Regions from separate parts of the Homo sapiens genome. Here region 1 is linked to region 2. The links come from fine-mapping of genetic effects on gene expression. A gene starts in region 2. The other region holds a variant in brackets. All regions are shown on one strand. Distances are from middle to middle. Region 1 overlaps MIPOL1 (mirror-image polydactyly 1). Region 2 holds the start of MIPOL1 (mirror-image polydactyly 1).

The links. PIP is the estimated chance that this variant, and not a neighbour inherited with it, causes the effect. A credible set is the group of variants that fine-mapping cannot tell apart.
Region 1: its variant is the best candidate, but not a certain one, in a credible set for the expression of MIPOL1 in thyroid (GTEx, PIP 0.67).

Annotation. Positions count from the first base shown.
Region 1 is chr14:37,359,472-37,363,670 of GRCh38, reverse strand. The region is part of intron 9 of MIPOL1 (mirror-image polydactyly 1); the gene reads right to left. Among named protein-coding and RNA genes, the nearest start is that of MIPOL1, 160 kb to the right of the region's middle. The variant G/A (reference allele first, on the strand shown) is at 1,981.
Region 2 is chr14:37,195,361-37,199,559 of GRCh38, reverse strand. MIPOL1 (mirror-image polydactyly 1) reads right to left here and starts at 1,623. Exons shown (of 13, transcript NM_001388067.1): 1 at 1,456-1,623.

The DNA of each region.
Region 1 (4,199 bases), 160 kb before region 2:
ATAGCTCTGAAGAGAGCAGTGGTTCTCCCAGCACGGCATTTGAGCTTTGAGAATGGACAGACTGCCTCCTCAAGTAGGTCCCTGACAATCATGTAGCCTAACTGGAAGACACCTCCCACTGGGGCCGACAGACACCTCATACAGGTGGATGCCCCTCTGGGATGAAGCTTCCAGAAAAAGGAACAGACAGCAATATTTGCTGTTCTGCAATATTTACTGTTCTGCAGCCTCCACTGGTGATACGCAGGCAAACAGGGTCTGGAGTGGACCTCCAGCAAACTCCAATGGACCTGCAGCTGAGGGACCTGACTGTTAGAAGAAAAACTAAGAAACAGAAAGGAATAGTTTCAACATCCACAAAAAGGACACCTACACCAAAACCCCAACTGTAGGTCAAAAACATCAGAGACCAAAGGTAGATAAATACATAAAGATGGGGAGAAACCAGAGCAGAAAAGCTGAAAATTCTAAAAACCAGAGTGCCTCTTCTTCTCCAAAGGATCGCAGCTCCTCACCAGCAATGAAACAAAGCTAGATGCAGAATGACTTTGACAAACTGACAGAAGTAGGCTTCAGAAGGTCAGTAGTAACAAACTTCTCCAAGCTAAAGAAGCATGTTCTAACCCATGGCAAGGAATCTAAAAATCTTGAAAAAAGGTTGGACGAACAACTAACTAGAATAAACAGTGTAGAGAAGACCTTAAATGACCTGACAGAGCTGAAAACCATGGCACAAGAATGTCGTGACACATGCACAAGCTTCAATAGCCGATTCAATCAAGTGGAAGAAAGGGTATCAGTGATAGAAGATCAAATTAATGAAATATAGCGAGGGGAGAAGTTTAGAGAAAAAAGAGTAAAAAGAAACAAACAAAGCCTCCAAGAAATATGGGACCATGTGAAAAGACCAAATCTACATTTGATTGGTGTACCGGAAAGTGACGGGGAGAATGAAACCAAGTTGGAAAACACTCTTCAGGATATTATCCAGGAGAACTTCCCCAACCTAGCAAGGCAGACCAACATTCAAATTCAGGAAATACAGAGAGCACCACAAAGATACTGCTTGAGAAGAGCAACCCCAAGACACGTAATTGTCAGATTCACCAAGGTTGAAATAAAGGAAAAAATGTTAAGTGCAGCCAGAGAGAAAGGTCAGGTTACCCACAAAGGGAAGCCCATCAGACTAACAGTGCATCTATCGGCAGAAACCCTACAAGCCAGAAGAGAGTGGGGGTCAATATTCAACATTCTTAAAGAAAAGAATTTTCAACCCAGAATTTCATATCCAGCCAAACTAAGCTTCATAAGTGAAGGAGAAATAATCCTTTACAGACAACCAAATGCTGAGAGATTTTGCCACCACCAGGCCTGCCTTACAAGAGCTCCTGAAGGAAGCACTAAATATAGAAAGGAACAACCAGTACTAGCCACTGCAAAAACATGCCAAATTGTAAAGACCATTGATGCTATGAAGAAACTGCATCAATTAACGGGCAAATTAACCAGCTAACATCATAATGACAGGATCATATTCACACATAACAATATTAACCTTAAATGTAAATGAGCTAAATGCCCCAATTAAAGGACACAGACTGGCAAATTGGATAGAGTCAAGACCCATCAGTGTGCTGTGTTCAGGAGACCCATCTCACATGCAGAGACACACATAGCTCAAAACAAAGGGAAGGAGGAAGATCTACCAAGCAAATGGAAAGCAAAAAAAGCAGGCATTGCAATCCTAGTCTCTGATAAAACAGACTTTAAACCAACAAAAGTCAAAAGAGACAAACAGCACTTTGAAAGGCCAAGGCGGGCAGATCACAAGGTCAGGAGATTGAGACCATCCTGGCTAACATGGTGCAACCCGGACTCTACGAAAAATACAAAAAATTAGCTGGGCATGGGGGTGGGTGCCTGTAGTCCCAGCTACTCGAGAGGCTGAGGCAGGAGAATGGCATGAACCCGGGGAAGGCG[G/A]AGCTTGCATTGGGCCGAAATCGAGCCACTGCCCTTCAGACTGCGAGAGAGGCAAAAAAAAAAAAAAAAAAAAAAAAAAAGAGAGAGAGGGAGAAACAAAAAAGGCCATCACATAATGGTAAAGGGAACAATTCAACAAGGAGAGCTAACTATCCTAAATATATATGCACCCAATACAGGAACACCCAGATTCATAAAGCAAGTCTTTAGAGACCTACAAAGAGACGTAGACTCCCACACAGTAGTAATGGGAGACCTTAACACCCCACTGTCAATATTAGACTGATCAATGAGAGAGAAGGTTAACCAAGAGAGAGAAGGATATCCAGGACTTGAATGCAGCTCTGCACCAAGGGGACCTAATAGACATCTACAGAACTCTTCACCCCAAATCAACAGAATACATATTCTTCTCAGTACCACATTGCACTTATTCTAAAATTGACGACATAATTGGAAGTAAAGAATTCCTTAGCATATGTAAAAGAACAGAAATCACAACAAACTGTCTCTCAGACCACAGTGCAATCAACTTAGAACTCAGGATTAAGAAACTCACTCAAAACTGCACAACTACATAAACGCTGAACAACTGCTCCTAAATGACTACTAGGTAAATAATGAAATGAAGGCAGAAACAAAGATGTTCTTTGAAACCAGTGAGAACAAAGATACAACGTAACAGAATCTCTGGGACACATTTAATGCAGTGTGTAGGCGGAAATTTATAGCACTAAATGCCCACAAGAGAAAGCAGAAAAGATCTAAAATTGACATCCTACCATCACAATTAAAAGAACTAGAGAAGCAAGAGCAAACACATTCAAAAGCTAGCAGAAGGCAAGAAATAACTAAGATCAGAGCAGAACTGAAAGAAATAGGGACACAAAAAACCCTTCAAAAAAATCAATGAATCCAGGAGCTGGTTTTTTGAAAAGATCAACAAAATTGATAGACTGCTAGCAAGACCAATAAAGAACAAAAGAGGGAAGAATCAAACAGACGCAATAAAAAATGACAAAGGGGATATCACCACCGATCCCACACAAATACAAGCTACCATCAGAGAATACTATAAAAACCTCTACGCAAATAAACTAGAAAATCTAGAAGAAATGGATGAATTCCTGGACACGTACACCCTCCCAAGACTAAACCAGGAAGAACTTGAATCTCTGAATAGACCAATAACAGGCTCTGAAATTGAGGCAATAACTAATAGCCTACTGAACAAAAAAGTCCAGGACTAGATGGATCACATCCGAATTCTACCAGAGGTACGAAGAGGAGATAGTACCATTCCTTCTGAAACTATTCCAATCAATAGAGAAAGAGGGAATCCTCCCTAATTCATTTTATGAGGCAACATCACCCTGATACCAAAGCGTGGCAGAGACACAACAAAAAAAGGGAATTTTAGACCAACATCCCTGATCAATATGGATGCGAATATCCTCAATAAAATACTGGCAAACCGAATCCAGCAGCACATCAAAAAGCTTATCCGCCAAGATCAAGTCGGCTTCATCCCCGGGATGCAAGGCTGGTTCAACATATGCAAATCAATAAACATAATACATCACATAAACAGAACCAATGACAAAAACCACATGATTGTCTCATTAGATGCAGAAAAGGCCTTCGACAAAATTCAACAGCCCTTCATGCTAAAAACTCACAATGAACTAGACATTGATGGAACGTATCTCAAAATAATAAGAGCTATTTATGACAAACCCACAGCCAATATTATACTGAATGGGAAAAAACTGGAAGCATTCCCTTTGAAAACCGGCACAAGACAAGGATGCCCTCTCTCACCACTCCTATTTAACATAGTGTTGGAAGTTCTGGCCAGGGCAATCGGGCAAGAGAAAGAAATAAAAGATATTCAATTATGAAAAGTGGAAGTCAAAGTTTGCAGATTACGTGATTGTATATTTAGAAAACCCCATCGTCTCAGTCCAAAATCTCCTTAAGTTGATAAGCAAATTAGGCAAATTCTCAGGATACAAAATCAATGTGCAAAAATCAAAAGTATTCCTATACACCAATAACAGAGAGCCAAATAATGAGTGAACTCCCATTCACAATTGCTACAAAGAGAATAAAATACCTAGGAATACAACTTACAAGGGATGTGAAGGACCTCTTCAAGAAGAACTACAAACCACTGCTCAAGGAAATAAAAGAAGAGACAAACAAATGGAAGAACATTC
Region 2 (4,199 bases):
GAGCGAGACTCCATCTCAAAAAAAAGAAGAAAAAAAAAAGTATACATAATTTCATCAAAATATTTCTAAAAATCTTTATAGCAGCCCTATTGGTAATAGCCAAAAACTAGAAATACTATACATACAGCATGAGAATAACAAACTGCTACATAACTTGAATAAATCTCACAAATAAAATATTGAGCAAAAATCAGAAACTAAGGACTAAATACCATATTACTCCATTTATATAAAGTAAATAATAGGTGAAATTCATTGATAATGTTGGAAGTCCAGATAATGATTACCTTTGGAACCATGAAGTGGGGCTTCCGGGATGCAATAATGCTCTTTCCTGATCTAGATACTGGATACATGGGTATTTACACTTTGTGAAAATTCACCGAGCTGTACACTTACGATTCATGCACTTTTCTGTATGTCTTTATACTTTAAATATTAACGCAATAAAAATATCTCTATAAACTCTACTCCTTTGAAGGAAAATTGTATACATCTCCCATTCATTTTGCTGATTGCCATCATTACCTCCCATCAATGACATGTCTTGATTCCTATTCCTCACATTAAAAATTAAACTGTTTTAATTAATTTTATTGGCATACGATTGCATAGAATGATTATGTAATTGTCATTTTAGATGAACTCCATACCAGATCACAAGGAAAAACTTTGAAACGCCAATAATTTGTGATAGTATATTCAAGTTATCTGGGGAAGAAAAGAACACCTCCTTGAAATGTAGTTTTGTTTGGCCCTTTGTTTTGGCTTATTTCTATCTACTACCACTGTGATTTAACCTGCATAAAATGCTCAAAGGAGCTTTTCCAAACGCGTGTGTTTGTGGAAAGTTGTTCCTTTCTACCATCCTTGTCTAATAATGCGGCTGTCTTGTTCCCTCCATCCATAGAGCTTAAAATGCTTCCCAAACGTTGCACCAGGTCCAGGGACATTGTGAATCAAAAAAGAAAAAAAAAAATTCTAACAGTATCTTTTTACAGCATGGCTTAGCGCGCTTAAAGAAGCCCCTCATTCTTCGCCCACACTTCCACGTGTGAGAAATGAAATATAAAACGACTCTCTCATGGGCACAGAGTCGATCAGAGGTTGAGCGAGGACTGGAACCTTCTGACTAACCGCGACTTAAGGGGAAAAAAACAAAAAAAATACACCCTTGAATAAATGCTCAGCTGCTCAGGTCCAGTATTAGGAAACTGGAGACAATACCAAAACCATACCCAGAAAGAGCTGTCTGCCACCTGAGGACCCCACGACACTGACCTTCGAGAGAGCCCCATCACTCCCGGCCACGCGGGGTCAGCATTCACTAAGTACAGATTCCGCGGGGCCCCTTCTCCTTCTCCAAGGAAAAGTCTGCGGCCGAAAACTCCAGGGCTGATCTGTGCCCACCACTATCATTCTCCGTCGCCCAAACCTCCCTGCCCAACCGTTTACCTGAGATGCGCCTGGCATAGACCGGGGAGTCGACACTGCGCGCTTGCCGAGTTTCTCAGGCCGAGTGCGCAGCCACCGCGTCAGCCAATCGCCACTGGCTCAGAGCCTCCTGGCTCGAGACTCACCCACAGACGATCCGGCGGAGGAGCGGGGCGGCGCGTGGGGCCTACGGGGCGGCGGCGCGCCGCAGGGGAGAGCGCAAGCGGCGAGCACCGGGCATGCGCGTGCCGCGCTGCCGGGCCGCGAGGCGGGGCCTCCAGGAGAAAGAGAGAGCTTGGGAAGAAGGCCCGGGAGGAGTTTGGAGAGAAAGTAGTCGAACTTAGTCTGCTGCGGTGGTTGCCCTAACGGGATGCTTATGGTTGTCGAATCCAAGACGACGAGCGCAGAACGCTCTTTCTCTTCTGAAAGAGCAAAACGTTGTCTGGACAAAACCTAATAGGATTAGAAGAGGGAGAACGCGGAACTAAAAACGGTGTCTTGTGGCCTCATACTTGGCCTCGTCGAGTTTTCCCAAGACCTGTCGAAATTGTGCTTTCCTTCTTTGTGTGTGGTTTGGGATGAGAGGTGGGAGGGACGTGTTTCGAAGCGGCGGTCAAGTGAAAATGGCACCAGATCGGGCTCCGGTTGAGTGAGCAAAAGTACTATCTAGATCCTGGCCAAAGAACGTTTCACACTAAAACCTTGGAGCTGGTGACTTTTTTTTTTTTTTTTTTTTTTGACTGAAGTGCTGGATGAGATTACGATATGTGAATCCTCTAAGAAAAAATGTTAAACCTTACAGAATTTAAAAATGTCCAAAGTTTTCAATTGGCCTACCTCCGTGAACTAAGAATGGTATAATTAACTGCTAGTAATTTAAATTTGGGTTTTTTGTTCCATAGTTCAGAATTGGTTTTATAAATGTCACTTTAACTCCTGTTACTCATGATTCCTTCAGACACCAAATACTTAGTGACCACATACCATGTGCCAGGTACTCTTCTGGGTGCTGAGTAATAAGCAATAATATTTTTTAATACACCCCAGAGAATAGGCATAATATGAGGTGCTGACGGGTTCCTAAATTTGTGGTTAAAGTTAATGAAAGGAACTTATCCTTTAGTAAGTGTACAAAAGAGAGTTTAAAAAACTGAAAAAGGCCGGGCGCGGTGGCTTACGCCTGTAGTCCCAACACTTTGGAAGGCTGAGGCAGTGGGATCGCTTGAGCCCAGGAGTTCGAGACCAGCCTGGACAACATGGCGAGACCTTGACTTTATTAAAAATCAAAAAAATTAGCTGGGCATGATGGTGCATACCCGTAGTCCCAGCTACTAGGGAGGATGAGGTGGGAGAATCGCTTGAGCCCCAGAGGTGGAGACTGAAATAAGCTACGATGGCTGGCGCCACTGCACCCCAGCCTGGGGGACAGAGCATGACGCTGTGAAAACTAACAAAATGGAAAAGTTGGACGTAGATTAACTTGGAACAACAGAGGTTATAATATTCACCAAATTTTCGTTATGTATGCTGTAATGAACAGTGTTCTCAAGAAGTTTGTTACAGATTCAGCTTTGAAATGCTTTTTTCTTTTTTGCTTTACTTCAGTCAGGATTTGAATCATATTTATGAACATAAAGTACCATAAAAATCTATGAGACAAAAACAAAGAGTGTACAGTTTATCAGAGCAAATACTCCAATCAGGAAGTATATAGCTTGTGCAAAGGCTTAGGGCCAAATCAAATTATGTGTAAAACAAAGGAAAAAGTTGATTTTCCTGGCTAGGAAATAATAAATAAAACAGGATAGTGACTACCACAATGAGAACATTCAAACCATGTAATGAATTAGTAGAATAAATTTAGAGAAAAATTATAATATTTTTCATTGAGTAAAGTTCATTTCCTCCTTTTTTTAAAGCCCATTATCTGGGTGCTTACAGTCTCTGGCATAAAGAGAAACCTCATATTTTCTTTCCTTTTAGTAAGCTGATTTTCTCTCTCTCTCTCTCTGTTTTATGCAGTGAGTTCAAACATTAGGACTAATTCTCCCTATTCTTTTTCCTTTTTCCCTAACATACCTGAAGTAACTCATTAATGTTCTTTCCCTAAACTTTTGATACCACAACAGGTAAGTTTTCCCCTACTCCCCTCCACCACCACCATAACCAACATATCCATTTCTTCATTTTCTATTGTTCTAACAGTTGCCTGTCTATAAGAAATGAAAGAGATAAATTAGAGCTTTTTTCTTTTCTCAAAATGATTATCAAAGATATTGTCTATGTCCTCATACCTCATACAAGCTGGACTTTTACAGAAATATGGATGAAGATGAGAAGAAGAAAATGAACCACTCTTTCGTTACAGGGAGAAAAAGAATGTCATATTATTAATATTATCAAGTCTGTTAATGTCAGATCATTAATATTCTCAAGTCTATAAATATTAGGCTTCTGCAGTGTGTCACACACTGATCAGTTCTGCAAATAAAATAATGAATAACAATTAGGCACACAAGTAGCTGAGAATACCATATGTATTAATCAGGGTTCTCCAGAGAAACAGAACAAACAGGATATGTGTGTATACACAGAGACTACATAGAGAGAGGGACAGTGATTTATTGTAAGGAAATGGCTCATGCAGTTGTGGACTTTTAGTGAGTCCAAAATCTGAGGGAAGAGGCGGGCAAGCCTCAGAAAAGAATTGTAGTTGGACATACATGGAATGTAATCTGTTGTATTCAAAGTCTGGTGATTTAAAT